Linked DNA regions of Homo sapiens: region 1 is linked to region 2. A link means that fine-mapping ties the variant in region 2 to the expression of a gene that starts in the linked region. Tissue or cell type: prefrontal cortex. Region 2 holds a variant in brackets; the other region holds the start of a gene. All regions are shown on one strand. Distances are from middle to middle.

Region 1 (8,000 bases), 250 kb before region 2:
CACTGGAAGCTGCACGCTCAGGGAAGCTCGGAGGCGGGGGTCCTGCGAGTGCTGGGGAGCACGTGGGGGGACACGCAGGGACTGCCCGCGCAAATGGCTTCGAACGCATGCTCCCCACCCCACATTTCACAGTCGCCATGACGACCAGGAGGTCCGCAAGGGCTGCGGGGACAAGTCCGTTGAGGCTGCCAGGCAAGTCAGGCCTTTCTGGACCTCGCCTGACTGAGCTGGGCTGTGCCTGAAATTGACCCAGCTCCGCCAGGGATTATAAGAAAACAAGTAGTAAGCTCAAAGCCGCTACAATCTTCCCGCCCTGGAGCCAGAGGTGGAAAAGTCGGCCCTATGCGGCGGGAACCTGCCAAGGGGCGCCCCAAGGTGCTCCACGCGGAGGATCCGAAATCTGAAAGCACAAAAAGGCTTGGAGCTACAGTTGGGGGCCAAGACCCTTCTTCTCGGCCCCTTCCAGTTCGTCCATAATTTCCTGGCGCAGCTTCGGGAAAAGGTGCACGAACTGCAGGCGCGGCAGTTCTCCAGCAGGACCACTCTTGGCATCGGTGAGGAGAGGGCAGGAGAGCCCTGGGAGGGAGCCGCATGGCGCTTTTCTTAAGTCTTGAAGGAGATCAGTTTAACAAGCAACGGTTTGTGGGTGCCTAGTAGCAAATAATAGCAAGGTCCGAGTAGAAAGCAGTTGGCCAAAGATCTTGCCATTGAACCAGGGGAGAGAGATGGGGAGTATATTGGTTTGAAGGGCTGTCAGATCACAGAGAGTGTTTTAAGGTCTAGGAGTTTTAAAGGCTGAGGGGAGGGATCAAGGGAAGAGGATGAGATTAAGATTCCAAGAGAGGAAATAATTAGTGGAGCAAGTCTTGGAATATTTGGGAGGGGTAGAATTAAAGGCACAAATTTGAGAAGCTAACTGTGGAAAAGAGGAGAGAGAATTCCTTTTCTGAGATGACAGGGAGTAGAAAAGTGAGGATTACTATATGGAGAAATGTTAAAGTGGAGATAAAAGAAGTCGGGAGTGCTGGCGTCTAATGGTCTTTGTTTCAGTGAAGTATGAGACTGGGTCACCTTCAGAGGTGAGATTGACAGGATGCCGGGGTCCAAGGGACATGCTTCTGTCACAGCTTGGAAAGGGCATGTGATAAGCCCTTCAAGCATTTAGAATACTGGCATCGTTACACCATATCATTTTTTTTCAGATGTGGTATGTGGGTTAAGGGAGGGAGTGAGAGACACAGAAAGATTTTGAGCATCTTTGGAAAGCTGGATGAATTCGGTAGTATATTTGACCTTTTCCTTATATATCATCTGAAGAGTTTTTGCCAGTGTATATAATTGTTAGGAGAATTAGAAATAGGATACAAATATAGTTGAATAGGATAGTCTCTGTATATTTTAAAATTAATGAAGCCTAATAAACAGTTAATGAGCATATTTACAAAAATTTAAAGTTTTCAGCCTTTTAAAAATTATAGCAACTGTGCTTGCAGACAGTCCAAAAATACACTGTGGGCCATACTTTGCCTATCCTGGTGTAAAACAAGTAAATCTTCTGAGAAGTATTTAAGATAAGCCCAGGGCAGTTAGTAGTATAGGAAAAGGTCTGGATAAGCATGGTTGAGAATTTCAACATTGCAATTTTTTAATTTTAAAAAATTTAATTTCTTCAACAATTATTAAATTAATTTGCATTTATTTTGTTAGCCAAGAGGAGTAATTTTTGAATTTTTAAGAGGCTATTATTGGTGGTTTATAAGACGACTTGCCAAGTATATTTGGGATAACCATAAGAAATACCATTATAAAATCTCAGAAGGGAGGTAGGACTTCTGGAATAGCCAAGGAAATGCACTCCTCCATGATGACAATGAAAATACTTGGAAAATTATCAAAATCATTTTCTTCAAAACTTTGGAAGTTAACCAAAGGTTTACAACAATCTAAAGGGCATTAATTCAAGAAAAGCTGCTGAACCTCTATAAGAACAGCAAAGTCTGTGGTGTTTTAACTTGTTCTATTCCCCACTTTTCTCTCTCCAGCTCCATGGTACCCTTGAAAACAAGCAATTCCCCAACGAAACAGGGGCACAGGCTGCGTTTGCAGCTCTGGTAAAAGCTCCATACCCAGAGCAGTGTCTCCCAGCTCCCTGGTGAAGTCTTACGTATACATGGGGTGCTGGCACAGGTGCCTCCAGATAAGTCTCCTAGGCCATCTAGTAGTTCCTAAGTCTGGGCGCTTGCAAAGAGCTTGCAATTCATCAAGGGTTGAGTTGCACAATGGGGCTTTTAGATGTGCTGCTGAGGAAGTGATTGCCTGCATTTAATCGTCTTCTGATGAATGCTAGAGAAACTGATCTAGAGTGGCACCTCTTGGTTAGAACGAGCTGAAGCATACTGTATATATTTACTTCTTTAAAAAATTTCATATAAAGGAATAGAATACTAAAAAGAAAAAAAAACAAAAAAGGTCACAATATTCCATAATTCCATCACTCCTACCAATTAACTGAAGTAAAAAAACCCTCTCAAGTCTCTCCCTTTGCTTGTCAAGCCCTGCTGCAGAGAGGTAAGCTCTGTTCAGAATTTACTTTGTGTCCTGGATTTTTTCCTATGCTCATAGAGACAGGATTAGCTGGCCATCTTGCTTTCTGTGCTATCTTTTCTAGACATGTAAAATAATACATTTGAAATACTTGTTTTAATGGTATTTTATAATAAAGCAGCTTTTAATAACTTTTCTCTTTTCCAGCCGTCTTTGTGGCAATTTTACATTGGTAAGATTTAGTTTCAGTTCGAAATATTTAAAAACATTTGAATTAAAAATTGCCATCACTCTTTGCATACAGTAAAACAATAACTTCTGGCTATATTTGTAGAACATCTTTATGTACGCCATTTTATACATATATTTTGCTTTTTTACAAACCTCATATGTGAAACAGCATTTACAAAATAGATGCATTGGGGGAATAGTAACTTATGAATTAAAATATTTTGGCTTTACCAAATAATTCACCACGTTTTTAAAAATATCTAGCTTTTCTAGTGTATTTTGCATGTGTAGTTCATTTAAAACCCTCCTTTGTTTTATGGTAATTATATGTTGCTAGTGAAATAACTTTTTTTTTTTTTTTTGAGACAGTCTTGCTCTGTCTCCCAGGCTGGAGTGCAGTGGCGCGATCTTGACTCATTGCAACCTATGCCTCCCAGGCTCAAGTGATTCTCGTGCCTCAGCCTTCTGAGTAGCTGGGATTACAGGTATGCGCCACCACACCCAGCCAATTTGTTGTATTTTTAGTGGAGATGAGGTTTCACCGTGTTGGCCAGGTTGGTGTCAAACTCCTGGCCTCAAATGATCCACCTGCCTTGGCCTCCCAAAGTGTTGGGATTACAGGCATGAGCCACCACGCTCAGCTAGTGAAATAACTTTGGTGATAAAGTTTTAGTAACACCCGCCAATTGGAAGTCAGGTAAAAAAGAAGATAAAGATTCTGCAGTGGTTATACAGAGTTAAATGGCTTTGACTCTTTCAGTGTGCAAGGCTGTGTACATTATTTTACAAAAGTGTTTATAAAAATTTGTAAAATAATATTTCCCTCTGGAATATTTTATTTTTACCTGTGCTCAGCGATTTCTACCCTTGGAAGGTATGAGATCTGCCCCTATGTTCTATTGATACAGTGCTGCTCTAGACATTTAGTCTGCAGGGAGATTTTGGTATTAGAACTGAGGCTGCAATGCTAGGGAATATTCCTGCAGTTTTTGGTACCCTGGCATATGTCCTACATGTAAAGAAGGGTTAGTGGAAAACAGGGTTAATACATGGAACTTTGCTTTATTTTCAACTTCACTGGAAAGTACTGACTACATAAGTTAGCTATAGCATAATTGTTGACCACAGCTAATTTTGTTTATCACATATGCTCCTTTCTTCACTGCCTACAGCTGCTGAGTTTCACTACTAAAAGGTCTTCAAGTACACACCTGTATTCTTTGGCGCTTGAAAGTTGATCCTTTATGTGATATTATACTTATTGTAAGTCTGTTTTGATCTAAAGTAATTTTATTTAAAATTATATTCTGAACCCTTTTCAACAGTTACGGAGGTATTTCCCAAGGCTGGTACATTAGAATCACTTGAAACTTAAAAAACAAACACTAACCTGCCTCTGTTCTGATTTAGAGGCCTGGGATGGAAGGAAGGGTGAAACAAGCCACAAGAATTTTAGATATACAATTAAGTTGGTTTTTTTTTTTTGAGACAGAGTCTTACTCTGTCGCCCAGGCTGGAGTGCAGTGGCATGATCTCTGCTCACTGCAACCTCCGCCTGCTGGGTTCAAGCAATTCTTCTGCCTCAGCCTCCCTAGCAGCCAGGATTACAGACATGCACTACCATGGCTGGCTAATTTTTGTATTTTTAGTAGAGACAGGGTTTCACCATGTTGGCCAGGCTGGTCTCAAACTCCTGACCTCAAGTGATCTGCCCGCCTCGGGCTCCCAAAGTGCTGGGATTACAGGCATGAGCCAACGCACCCGGCAACAATTAAGTTTAAAAACCACTGAGTTAAGGAATTTCAGGTGTGTGCCATACTGCATTATAAATGCCTAAAAACATACGAGTTAGTAAGCAAATTATAAAAACAATATTATAACAATTTATTGTTTCCTTTTTTATGGCTTTCTTACTTATCGCTTATTTTAATGTTGGTTTTGAAACTTGTTCTTATTGTAATATGATACTTCATTGCACTGTTTCATAAGCTATAACCCAGGTTTATTATTTAAATAGTAAAGTGTTTGAGATTATTTTTCTGTTACTTCATTATCTCTCACCCTTTCCTAATGCAGACTTCTTTTTAAGATAATGAAGATGAATTATAGTAGCTGAGGAAGGAGGACAAAGAAAGCACTGAAGAAGTGATAAAGGGGAATGAAATGAGATGTTATCAGAAATTGCTTTTTCTTTGGCTACAGTTGGGAGGTCCCATGTTTTACTGGGTCTTTTACTGATGATGATTATTATTTGGTTCTCTTTTGATTTCAAGATAATCTCTTTTAAGAGATGACTTTTGATATAATTTTTAAATATTTTTCTGTTTTTCGATACTTAATCTTTAAAATGGAGTTTTCTGCCATACACATCTCACATAATTATTGTGAGGAGTAAATGGGATAGCGAATACCAAAATTGTGCAATTTTACATTTAGAAGACACCACAACCGTCCATCTTCCAGATCTGCTCCCAGCTGGTCGGGGGCCTACTGAAGCATTGAAGCTGACTCTCCTCACTCTAGCCATTGCTTTTTGTTTAAATTATGGTGAAATTTAGATTTAAGTTTGTAATAGAAAAATGTCAATGGTTATCATTTAAGCGTACAATTCAGTGACATTAAGTACATTCGTGTTGTCTTGCAACTATTACCACTGTCCACATCCAGAACTTTTTGCTATCCCAAACAGAAACTCCACCCACTAAACACTAATCACACTCAGCTCTATTTTCTATCTCTATGATTTTGCCTATGCCAGGCCCCTCCGTCACTGCTTTTTAATTTTCATCCCTATATTGCCCCTATAAAGTTTCAAAGCATTGGATACATTAACATATGTATGACATTTGAACATTTTAAAGAGAATATTTAATATTTCCCTAAATATAGACTTTTGCATATTAGATATCCTTTAATTATTGTATTGCTTTATCCTCCTAAGCAGAAAGGAAAATTCTTTATGAACTCATATTTTGCCAATCAACTATGAGGTAATGGCCTTTCAGACATCAGCTAAAACAGACGTTTAATTTAGTAGTTACTCGTGTTGGATGAGGCAGATATGATTATAGCATATAGCATTTTTTAGGGAGAATGCATTTTAAACAATGTGGCCCTTTTTTGCTTTTAGATTTTAGGAGCGAAAGCAAGAAATTGATGGGGAAATAAGACATAACATGCTATTGTTAATCCATGAATTTTAACTCAACAGCACTTTTACTATCCTAATGAAGCCTTTATTTTATATGCTGAAGTGTAAGACACTAAAATAATCTGCTTTTTAGTACATAGTATTTGTGAGCAACAATAGTCAATCAACATTGAGCTTTCACTTAGCACAGAGGATTAGATGGAGCTATGAATTAAGCTAGAAGCACTGGATTCCTTGCTCATGATGCTTATGGTCATTATATTTTATTTCCTAAGAGCATGGGAAAAAAAGAAGTAATTTTCTATATGCAAAGTTGTACAGAGGCATGAAGGCATCCCTGTTTATGACAGAATTAATCAGATGTCAACCTTCAAGCATCTCAAATGTGGGGGATAAAACCAGATTTGGGAAAATTGAACATATACTGTCTACACATTTTAAGACATTATTAGAGAAACTCTTTAAATCATTCGACCATCCCTCCAACTCTTTAGTTTGAAAGCCTATAGAAAACTTGAAAGAATAGTACAGTGATCACCTGAAAATACGTGCTTTTTAAAGTCCAAGAATGCAAAATAGCGAGGCGTAATTAGGAAGTCTTATTATTGACCTTTTTTTTCAGAAAAAAATGTTCTAAAGAAGTGATAAAAATAAATATTTTAAAGTTTTAATTACATTGACAACATGTGCCTTCTTTTTTTTTTTTTTTTTTTAAAGGGACTTTTATTCCTACTTCGAGACCAATATTGAAGCACCTTCATTTTTGGAAGGACTGGGGACGATAATGAATGACAGGCTTACTGAAATCCTCTTGGAATTAATGCAGTAAAATGCTTCCATCTTTATCCAGAGGTGAGTCATAATTTGAGACAAATAATATATTTATAGAGTGATCCTCTTTATCAGATAAAAATAGTAAGCACAATCTTTTTAAGAAAGGGAGGGGACCTTTCACGTTTATTAGTTGTGTGTATCCTTATAGTTGAGCAGAATATCATAAGTTCCTCTCTTAAAATTTAAAGACCCCAGAAACTGTTCTCTCATGAACTCAAAGAATGAACTTTAGTGTGTAAATAATAGCCAGGGTAATAGACAAGCCAAATGGAAAAGAGAGTCATGGGAGCCAAAAAGGTTCTAAATGGGGATGGGCTTTTGGCTTTGGATACCTCGTAGGTGGGCACGATGACCACGTGAAGGGACAGTGAGAGTGATGAGCTTGAATAGTTATCTTGGACTTACGTTAGTAAAGTAAGATTTATTTAGTCACACAGCCGGAAATCTATTACTATCTTCCAACACTTAGCCTAAAAGACTATGGTTGTTTTTTTTTTTTTTTTTTTTTAGTATTTATTGATCATTCTTGGGTGTTTTTTGGAGAGGGGGATTTGGCAGGGTCATAGGACAATAGTGGAGGGAAGGTCAGCAGATAAACATGTGAACAAGGGTCTCTGGTTTTCCTAGGCAGAGGACCCTGCAGCCTTCCGCAGTGTTTGTGTCCCTGGGTACTTGAGATTAGGGAGTGGTGATGACTCTTAACGAGCATGCTGCCTTCAAGCATCTGTTTAACAAAGCACATCTTGCACCGCCCTTAATCCATTTAACCCTGAGTGGACACAGCACATGTTTCAGAGAGCACGGGGTTGGGGGTAAGGTTATAGATTAACAGCATCCCAAGGCAGAAGAATTTTTCTTAGTACAGAACAAAATGGAGTCTCCTATATCTACTTCTTTCTACACAGACGCCGCAACAATCTGATTTCTCTTTCTTTTCCCCACATTTCCCCCCTTTCTATTCGACAAAACCGCCATCGTCATCATGGCCCGTTCTCAATGAGCTGTTGGGCACACCTCCCAGACGGGGTGGCTGCCGGGCAGAGGGGCTCCTCACTTCCCAGATGGGGCAGCCGGGCAGAGGCGCCCCCCACCTCCCGGACGGGATGGCTGCCGGGCAGGGGCTGCCCCCCACCTCCCGAATGGGGCGGCTGGCCAGGCAGGGGCTGGCCCCACCTCCCTCCCGTGCGGGGTGGCTGGCCGGGTGGGGGCTGCCCCCCACCTCCCGGACGGGGCGGCTGCC
Region 2 (8,264 bases):
CAGGCAGAATTGGTCAAATCTGATGGGAGAAAGACCAGAACAAACAACAACAAAAACCCAACAATATGATTACTGAGCGCTATAACAGTAAGGAGAAACTACGACCAGCTGCATCATAACTTTAACCAAGATGAAACCCCAATTCAGTCACTTACCTAGGAATGGGTCTCAGGCTGAAGACTGCTCTCTACCATTCTAGAAGCAGGAAAACTCAAATTCGCCTTCTCTGTTGGAAGTGAGCTCTAACTCCAGAAAGGAGTTACCTGCCTTCTATTGTCATGGAAGCAGGAAAACTTGCTTTCCTTGTTGGAAGCAAGTAAAACTCTAGAAAAGGAGTTGTACAGCAAAATACACTTTGGATCTCAACCAAATTTGGGGAGATCAGGATTCTCTGGAGGGAGGAGGGCTCCCAGCTCTCAGCCAATTGTCCTGTTGGTTTCGACCATAAAGACAGCTAAAAGCTGGTACTAAATATCAATAGATTTGTCAGAGGTTGAGGCCACCTATACTCAGAGTCTCTTTCATCGGTTGCCAATTTGTAAACCAAAAAGTATTTGAGACAAGTCTGAATCAATTTAGAAAGTTTATTTTGCCGAGGTTAAAGACGTACCTGTGACACATCCTTAGAAGGTCCTGAGGACACATGCCCAAGGTGGTTAGGCTCCAGCTTGCTTTTATACATTTTATGGAGACATAATACATTATGGGGAAAACAAAGAGAGATCAGATTGTTACTGTGTCTATGGAGAAAAAGGAAGATATAAGAAACTCCATTTTGATCTGCACTAAGAAAAATTGTTCTGCTTTGAGATGCTGTTAATCTGTAACTCTTGTCCCAACCCTGTGCTCACAAAAACATGTGCTGTATTTTTCATGCGTGTCCGTGTGAAGAGACCACCAAACAGGCTTTGTGTGAGCAATAAAGCTTTTAATCACCTGGGTGCAGGCGGGCTGAGTCCGAAAAGAGAGTCAGTGAAGGGAGATAGGGGTGGGGCTGTTTTATAAGATTTGGGTAGGTAAAGGAAAATTACGGTCAAAGGGTGTTTGTTCTCTGGCGGGTAGGAGTGGGGGTCACGAGGTGCTCAGTAAGGAAGGTTTCTGAGCCAGGATGAGCCAGGAAAAGGACTTTCACAAGGTAATGTCATCACTTAAGGCAAGGACCGGCCATTTTCACTTCTTTTGTGGGGGAATGTCATCGGTTAAGGCAAGGACCGGCCATTTACACTTCTTTTGTGGTAGAATGTCATCAGTTAAGGCGGGGCAGGGCATTTTCACTTCTTTTGTGATTCTTCAGTTACTTTAGGCCATCTGGGCATATACGTGCAAGTCACAGGGGATGCGATGGCTTGGCTTGGGCTCAGAGGCCTGACAGTATTGACTGAGGTTTAAGGAATTCAGGGCTGTGCAGGATGTGCTTTGTTAAAAATGTGTTTGCAGGCAGTATGCTTTGTGAAAGTCATCGCCATTCTCCATTCTCTATTAACCAGAGACACAATGCACTGTGGAAGGCCGCAGGGACCCCTGCCCAAGAAAGCCTGGGTATTGTCCAGGTTTCTCCCCACTGAGACAGCCTAAGATATGGCCTCGTGGGAAGGGAAAGACCTTACAGCCCCTCAGCCCGACACCTGTAAAGGGTCAGTGCTGAGGAGGATTAGTGAAAGAGGAAGACTTCCATGCAGTTGAGATAAGAGGAAGGCATTTGTTTCCTGCATGTCTCTGGGAATGGAATGACTTGGTGTAAAACCGAGCGTACATTCTATTCTGAGATAGGAGAAAACCGCCTTATGGCTGGAGGTGAGACATCATGGTGGCAATACTGCTCTGTTACTTTTTACTGCACTGAAATGTTTATGTAAAGTTAAACATAAAACTAGCCTATGTGCACATCCAGGCACAACACCTTTCCTTATTTATGACACAGATTCCTTTGCTCAAATGTTTTTCTGCTGACCCTCTCCCCACCATCACCCTATAGTTACACCACATTCCCCTCACCAAGATAGTAAAGATAGTGATCAATAAATACTGAGGGAACTCAGAGACCAGCGCTGGTGCAGGTCCTAACTTGCTGAGCGCTGGTCCCCTGGGCCCACTTTTCGTCCTCTATACTTTGTCTCCGTGTCTTATTTCTTTTCTCAGTCTCTCGTCTCCACCTTGCGAGAAATACCCACAGGTGTGGAGGGGCAGGCCCCCTTCAATACATCCACCAATACATTAAGATTTACATTGGTTTGATCTGGAAGGGTGGGACAACTCAAAGAAGGAGGCTTCCAAGTCATAGGTACACTTAAACATATTCTGATTGGCAATTGGTTGAAAGAGTTTTTATCTATAGAAAAGAATGTCTGGGTGAAGACAAGGGGTTGCGGAGGTTTTATCATGCAGATGAAGCCTCCAAGTATCAGGCTTTAGAGAGAATAGACTGTAAATGTTTCTTAAGGTCTGTGATGATAGTAATGCTGGAAGGGTATAATGAAGCAAGTTCAACCCCCACCTGGCTTCAAGGCCTAAACCAGTCTTTTTTGGTTAAATTTTAGGGTGCCCTGGCTGAGGAGGGAATCCATTGGGATGGTTGCAGGGGTGCCTTTGAATTTTATTTTTGGTTTACAAAGCCAATACTATGACACCAGGTTTTTGAGAAAAGAAAAGCTTTTCATTGCAGGTTACTCAACAAGGAGACAGGAGTCCAGCTCAAATCTGTCTCCCTGTGCTGGCTTTAAGGCAGTACTTTTATTAGAAAAGGTTAAGGGGCTGATTCTGGGATTAGCAAGTAGTTGGTAGAAGGAAAGGGAACATCTGCGAAGTCCCTCAGGCGTGCACAGTTATCTCTCCATGCCTCCTCATGGATCCCATACACAAATTCAGGGGAAGTTAGTATGAAACAAGAGGAGTCAGTATGAAACATGTGGTAGAAATTTGGGTTGTGATATCAGCGAGTTCATTCTACATATATTCATTGGCCATATTAGTTTTAACCAATTTTAGCCAATTTCATTCTCTTAGAAGGGGAGGGAGTTTTATTTTAGCAAGTTGTTTCTTATCTGCCATCCTGCAAGCTCGAAGATTTCTGTTACTGCTTTCTTCAGCTCTTTGGGGCACAGTTTCAATGGGCAGAGAGTGTACCAGCTTTGGCCTTTTGTTTCTGGTTCCAGTGAACAGAAAGGCATCAAACCAAGGGACCACAGGAACTACGAGGTAAGCTACGAAAAGTACAGTTCTGCTCTTAAGCTCCTCCTACAAGATCCTGTCCAGAGACACAGGAGGAGGCAAAGATGCTGGTAAGCACTTTGTGCCATTCTGTGCTCCCTCCCACCAGCCCTCTTTCTGGCCAAGTTCTAGTCCCACCTGCTTTGTGCCTACTGGTAGTTCGTTTTCTGGTCTTTAGTGTCCTCATCGATAAAATAACGTAACATCTCTAATCATGTGCATTCACACAGTGAGGTAAATGATGTGAAAGGGCTTTGAACAATGTAGTAAGGAAAAGAGACTAGGATACTGACTTCCCATTTTCCCAATTCCTGCTTCAGAACTGCTCTCCTAGGCCCCAAGCCCCTGCCTCTGTTAGCCCCTTGATCAATCTTTGCCTATGGAGGGGCAAAACTACATGGTATCCCAAGAACAAGGACCAATAATTACAGATCCATTTATTTTCTTTGCTACTTCCCATGACCACTCTTAAACTGAGAAACTGGGACCATTTCCCTGATTGATGGGGCCTCCTCACTAGAATAAAAGGGAGCATGTATGTTTCATAATGGGCATTCCATCAAGAAATGTCCTAAGGAGATAAATGTATGTTTCATAATAGGCATTCTGTGATGGAATGTCCTGAGGAGATAAATGCTGGAGTCGGTCTCAGCACATCTCAGTTATTCATTCTGACTCGTTTGGACAAGTGAGTTACTACAGCACTCATTTGGAAAAATGACCAGAAAGCTACCTCCAATTTCTCGGCCTCAACCCTGGCCTCCATTTCTTTCTGTTCCTTCTGGCTCTCGTCTTCCAGCCCTTCTTCCTCCCCTTACTCCTCAAACTTCCTGCCCTCAGCCTCCTCTCCAGGACCGTCCAAGCTGTTCAGTTTTCCAGCGTACCTGTTTCCCCCAGCTGACTAATGTCGCCCCTTCCCAGCACCCTACCTCCCGGAACTCCCTGCCCAGCTCTTCCTCTGTTAATTCCAGAGCGTCCGTATGCCACCGCCCTGCTCGTCAGGCACCCCTTTCCAAGTGTCCTCCTATCTTTCCCCCTCGCCCTCCTCATAGACCCTCTTGCTAGTCCCCTGTACTCTAATCCCCACAACCTAGTACACCCCTGCATCTTATCCTAGAGAGATGGCTTCCCTCCTACTGGGGCAGTTCAGAATTTCCAGGACTGTGGACTCCCACAACCAGACCTGATGGCTCACAAATCTCACCCTGGAGAGATTGCTTTCCTCATACTGGGGCAGTTCAGAAGTGCCAGGACTGTGGATTCCCACAAGCAGACCTGACGGCTCACAAATCTTACCCTGGGGAGATGGTTTCCCTCATACTGGGGCAGTTCAGAATTGCCAGGACTGTGGATTCTCCCAA[A/C]GAGACTTGATGGCTCATGAATCTCACCCTGGAGAGATGGCTTCCCTCATACTGGGGCAGTTCAGAAGTGCCAGGACTGTGGACTCCTACAACCAGACCTGACGGCTCACAAATCTTACCCTGGGGAGATGGTTTCCCTCATACTGGGGCAGTTCAGAAGTGCCAGGACTGTGGACTCCCACAACCAGACCTGACGGCTCACAAATCTTACCCTGGGGAGATGGTTTCCCTCATACCGGGGCAGTTCAGAAGTGCCAGGATTGTGGACTCCCACAACCAGACCTGACGGCTCACAAATCTTACCCTGGAGAGATGGCTTCCCTCATACTGGGGCAGTTCAGAAGTGCCAGGACTGTGGATTCTCCCAACGAGACCTGATGGCTCATGAATCTCACCCTGGAGAGACGGCTTCCCTCATACTGGGGCAGTTCAGAAGTGCCAGGACTGTGGACTCCTACACCCAGACCTGACGGCTCACAAATCTTACCCTGGGGAGATGGTTTCCCTCATACTGGGGCAGTTCAGAAGTGCCAGGACTGTAGACTCCCACAACCAGACCTGACGGCTCACAAATCTTACCCTGGGGAGATGGTTTCCCTCATAATGGGGCAGTTCAGAAGTGCCAGGACTGTGGACTCCTACAACCAGACCTGACGGCTCACAAATCTTACCCTGGAGAGATGGCTTCCCTCATACTGGGGCAGTTCAGAAGTGCCAGGACTGTGGATTCTCCCAACGAGACCTGATGGCTCATGAATCTCACCCTGGAGAGATGGCTTCCCTCATACTGGGGCAGTTCAGAAGTGCCAGGACTGTGGACTCCCACAGCCAGACATGACGGCTCACAAATCTTACCCTGGGGAGATGGTTTCCCTCATACTGGGGCAGTTCAGAATTGCCAGGACTGTGCATTCTCTCAGCCAGACCTGACAGCTCACAAATCTCACCTTGGAGAGATGGCTTTCCTCCTACTGGGGCAGTTCAGAAGTGTCAGGACTGTGGACTCCCACAGCCAGACCTGACGGCTCACGTATCTCACCCTGGAGAGATGGGCTCGCTCCTACTGGGGCAGTTCAGAAGTGCCAGGACTGTGGACTCCCACCACCAGACCTGATGGCTCACCTATCTCACCCTAGAGAGATGGCTTCCCTCCTCCTGGGGCAGTTCAGAATTGCCAGGACTGTGGATTCCCAGAAGGCTGATTTAATGGACGTAGAAAATGTAAGATGGTAAACCAACATTCAGCCTCAGTAAGTTACAAGGACCCCTTTTCCATGATCAGATTCCTTGTTATCTTATTACTAACTGTATTTTGCCTTAATCCTCATTTTGTTAACCCTCTTCAGATTCTAGAGATTACCTTTTTCTAGACAGTCTTTTTTTCTTTTTGAGACAGTCTCACTCTGTTGCCCAGGCTGGAGTACAGTGGTGTGATCTTGGTTCACTGCAACCTCCACCTCTCAGTTCAAGTGATTCTCCCACTTCAGCCTCCCGAGTAGCTGGGATTACAGGCGCCCGCCACCACGCCTGGCTAATTTTTTGTATTTTTAGTAGAGATGGGGTTTCATTATGTTGGCCAAGCTGGTCTCAAACTCCTGACCTCAAGTGATCCGCCCGCCCGGCCAAGACAGTCTGTTCCTTTCCTCTCCTGTCTAGTCAGCTAGGATATACAAGCCTCTACCTTTGGAACTGGTTTCTCAATGGAACTTGGTCTGAAACCACAAAGCAAACTATAGGACTGATGACAGAGAAAGAGGAGAGTGAGGAGTAAAAAGCGTTAATCTGTTTTCAAGTAGGGTAAGTTGTGTTGATGTGCCCTAGGTTCAAGTCAATGCAAGAACAGGTGACCCCTGAGAACTCACACACAGGGTACAAGGCCCCTGCTATATAGATACAGGGTACAGAGTTTTGTTTTTTATTGTGTTTTTTTGGGTCTGGTTCCTCCCAGACTTCATTTTTCTTCATCCTAGAATTCCAGAATCTTGCCAGGGACTTTCTGCCCTTAAGGAAAGTCTCCTGCAAAAAGAGGGAGGGGGCCCTCCAGGGCTCTCATCAAAGCTGAGGGTTGAGCCTCCCTCTCAGTTAGCTGCTTCCACGCCAGAAAGGGAAAGGTAGCAGAGTCTGGAAGGCACAGCATGTCCAGATCCTACCCAGATGAGAGCATCTGATGAACAGATAATATAAAAAGAAGTGCTGTCCTCAAACTGATCCTTAGATTCAATACAATCTCAATCAAAACTCCAAAAGATATTTTTGCAGAACCTGGCAAGCTGATTATAATTTATATGGAAATGTAAAGGGTCAAGAGTAGCCAAGACTCTCCTAAGAAGAAATTCTTCTTTACCAGGTATCAAAACTTATTACAAAAATTATAATAAGATAGTGTAATACTGGTGCAAGCATAGAAAAATAGACAAATGTCACAGAATACAGGAACAAGACACACATATGTGGACACTTTAATACCAAAGTAGCATAACAGAACAGTGAAGATAGGACTGTCTTTATATTCAATAAAGTGGTCTTAAGGCAACTGGATGCCCAAATGAGTAAGTAATGATTTCTACCTCACAATTCATTCAAAAAATCATTTTCAGGTGGAACATAAGATATAATGTGAAAGGGTAAAAACAATAAATCTTCTAGAACTGCTCTGCCCATGTATGGATACTGAACATTCGAGATGTGCTATTAAGTAAAATTTGCATTTGATTTTAATTACTTAGTAGGAAAAAACAATGTGAAATATCTCAATTTTTATATTGAAACTTTGAAATACTAATTTGGAGTGAGTTAAAAAACACAATATTAAAATTAGTTTTATCTGATTATTTTGCTCTCTTAATGTGGATACTACAAATTTTAAATTATGTATGCAGCTCACTTAGTATTTTTATTAGACAACACTGATCTAGAAGGTAATACAGAAAAATATCTTCAGGACATCAAATTAGTAAAAATGTCTTAAATGGCATTTAAAAAGCACTAACCACAATGGGAAAGACTAATATAGTTGACCACATTTCAATTATGGTGTAAAAAAGACACCATTAAGATACTGAAAAGGCAAGCAACAGAGAGGGAAAAGAATTTGCAGCACATATAAGTCTTAAATGGCTTTTTTCAATAATATAAAAAGAACTTCAACAAATAAAGAAAAGACAATCCAATTGAAAAACAGGATAAGATTTGGAGCATGTGCGTCACAAAAAGAGGATAGCCCAATGACCAGCAGACCTATAAAAAAGTGTCCAGCCTCATAACAAATCAAAAAATGTGATGTAAAACAATAATGAGATGACACTACATACCCCACCAGAATTACTGTAATTAAAAGGATGGACAATGCCCAGTGTTGGCAAGGAGCATGAAGAACACCAGTGATAAAGTTAATTGGTTCCACTGTTTCGGAAAACAATTTGATATCTACTAAAAGCGAAGACAGGTATTCCCTATAATCCATCAATTCCACTCTTAAGTATATATCCAACAAAATGATTTGCACACGTGCACCAAGAGACATCTAAAAAATGCTCATGATGGCATTATTTGTAATGCCCATGATGAAACAACCGAATGCCTGTCAACAGTTGAATAAATAAATTGTGGTTTATCACCAAAGGGAACACTACACAGTTATGAGAAGAAATGAAACCACAGGAATATGCAACGGCATAGATGAATTCCACAAGCATA

The links. PIP is the estimated chance that this variant, and not a neighbour inherited with it, causes the effect.
Region 1: LINC00997 starts here. The variant in region 2 is fine-mapped to the expression of LINC00997 in prefrontal cortex (GTEx, PIP 0.90).

What each region holds. Positions count from the first base shown.
Region 1 is chr7:32,754,052-32,762,051 of GRCh38, reverse strand. It overlaps LINC00997 (long intergenic non-protein coding RNA 997), which reads right to left and starts at 3,766. Exons shown (of 1, transcript NR_036501.1): 1 at 1-3,766.
Region 2 is chr7:32,507,541-32,515,804 of GRCh38, reverse strand. All of the region lies in intron 1 of AVL9 (AVL9 cell migration associated), which reads right to left. Among named protein-coding and RNA genes, the nearest start is that of AVL9, 16 kb to the right of the region's middle. RefSeq lists enhancers at 908-1,532, 2,087-2,661. The variant A/C (reference allele first, on the strand shown) is at 4,569.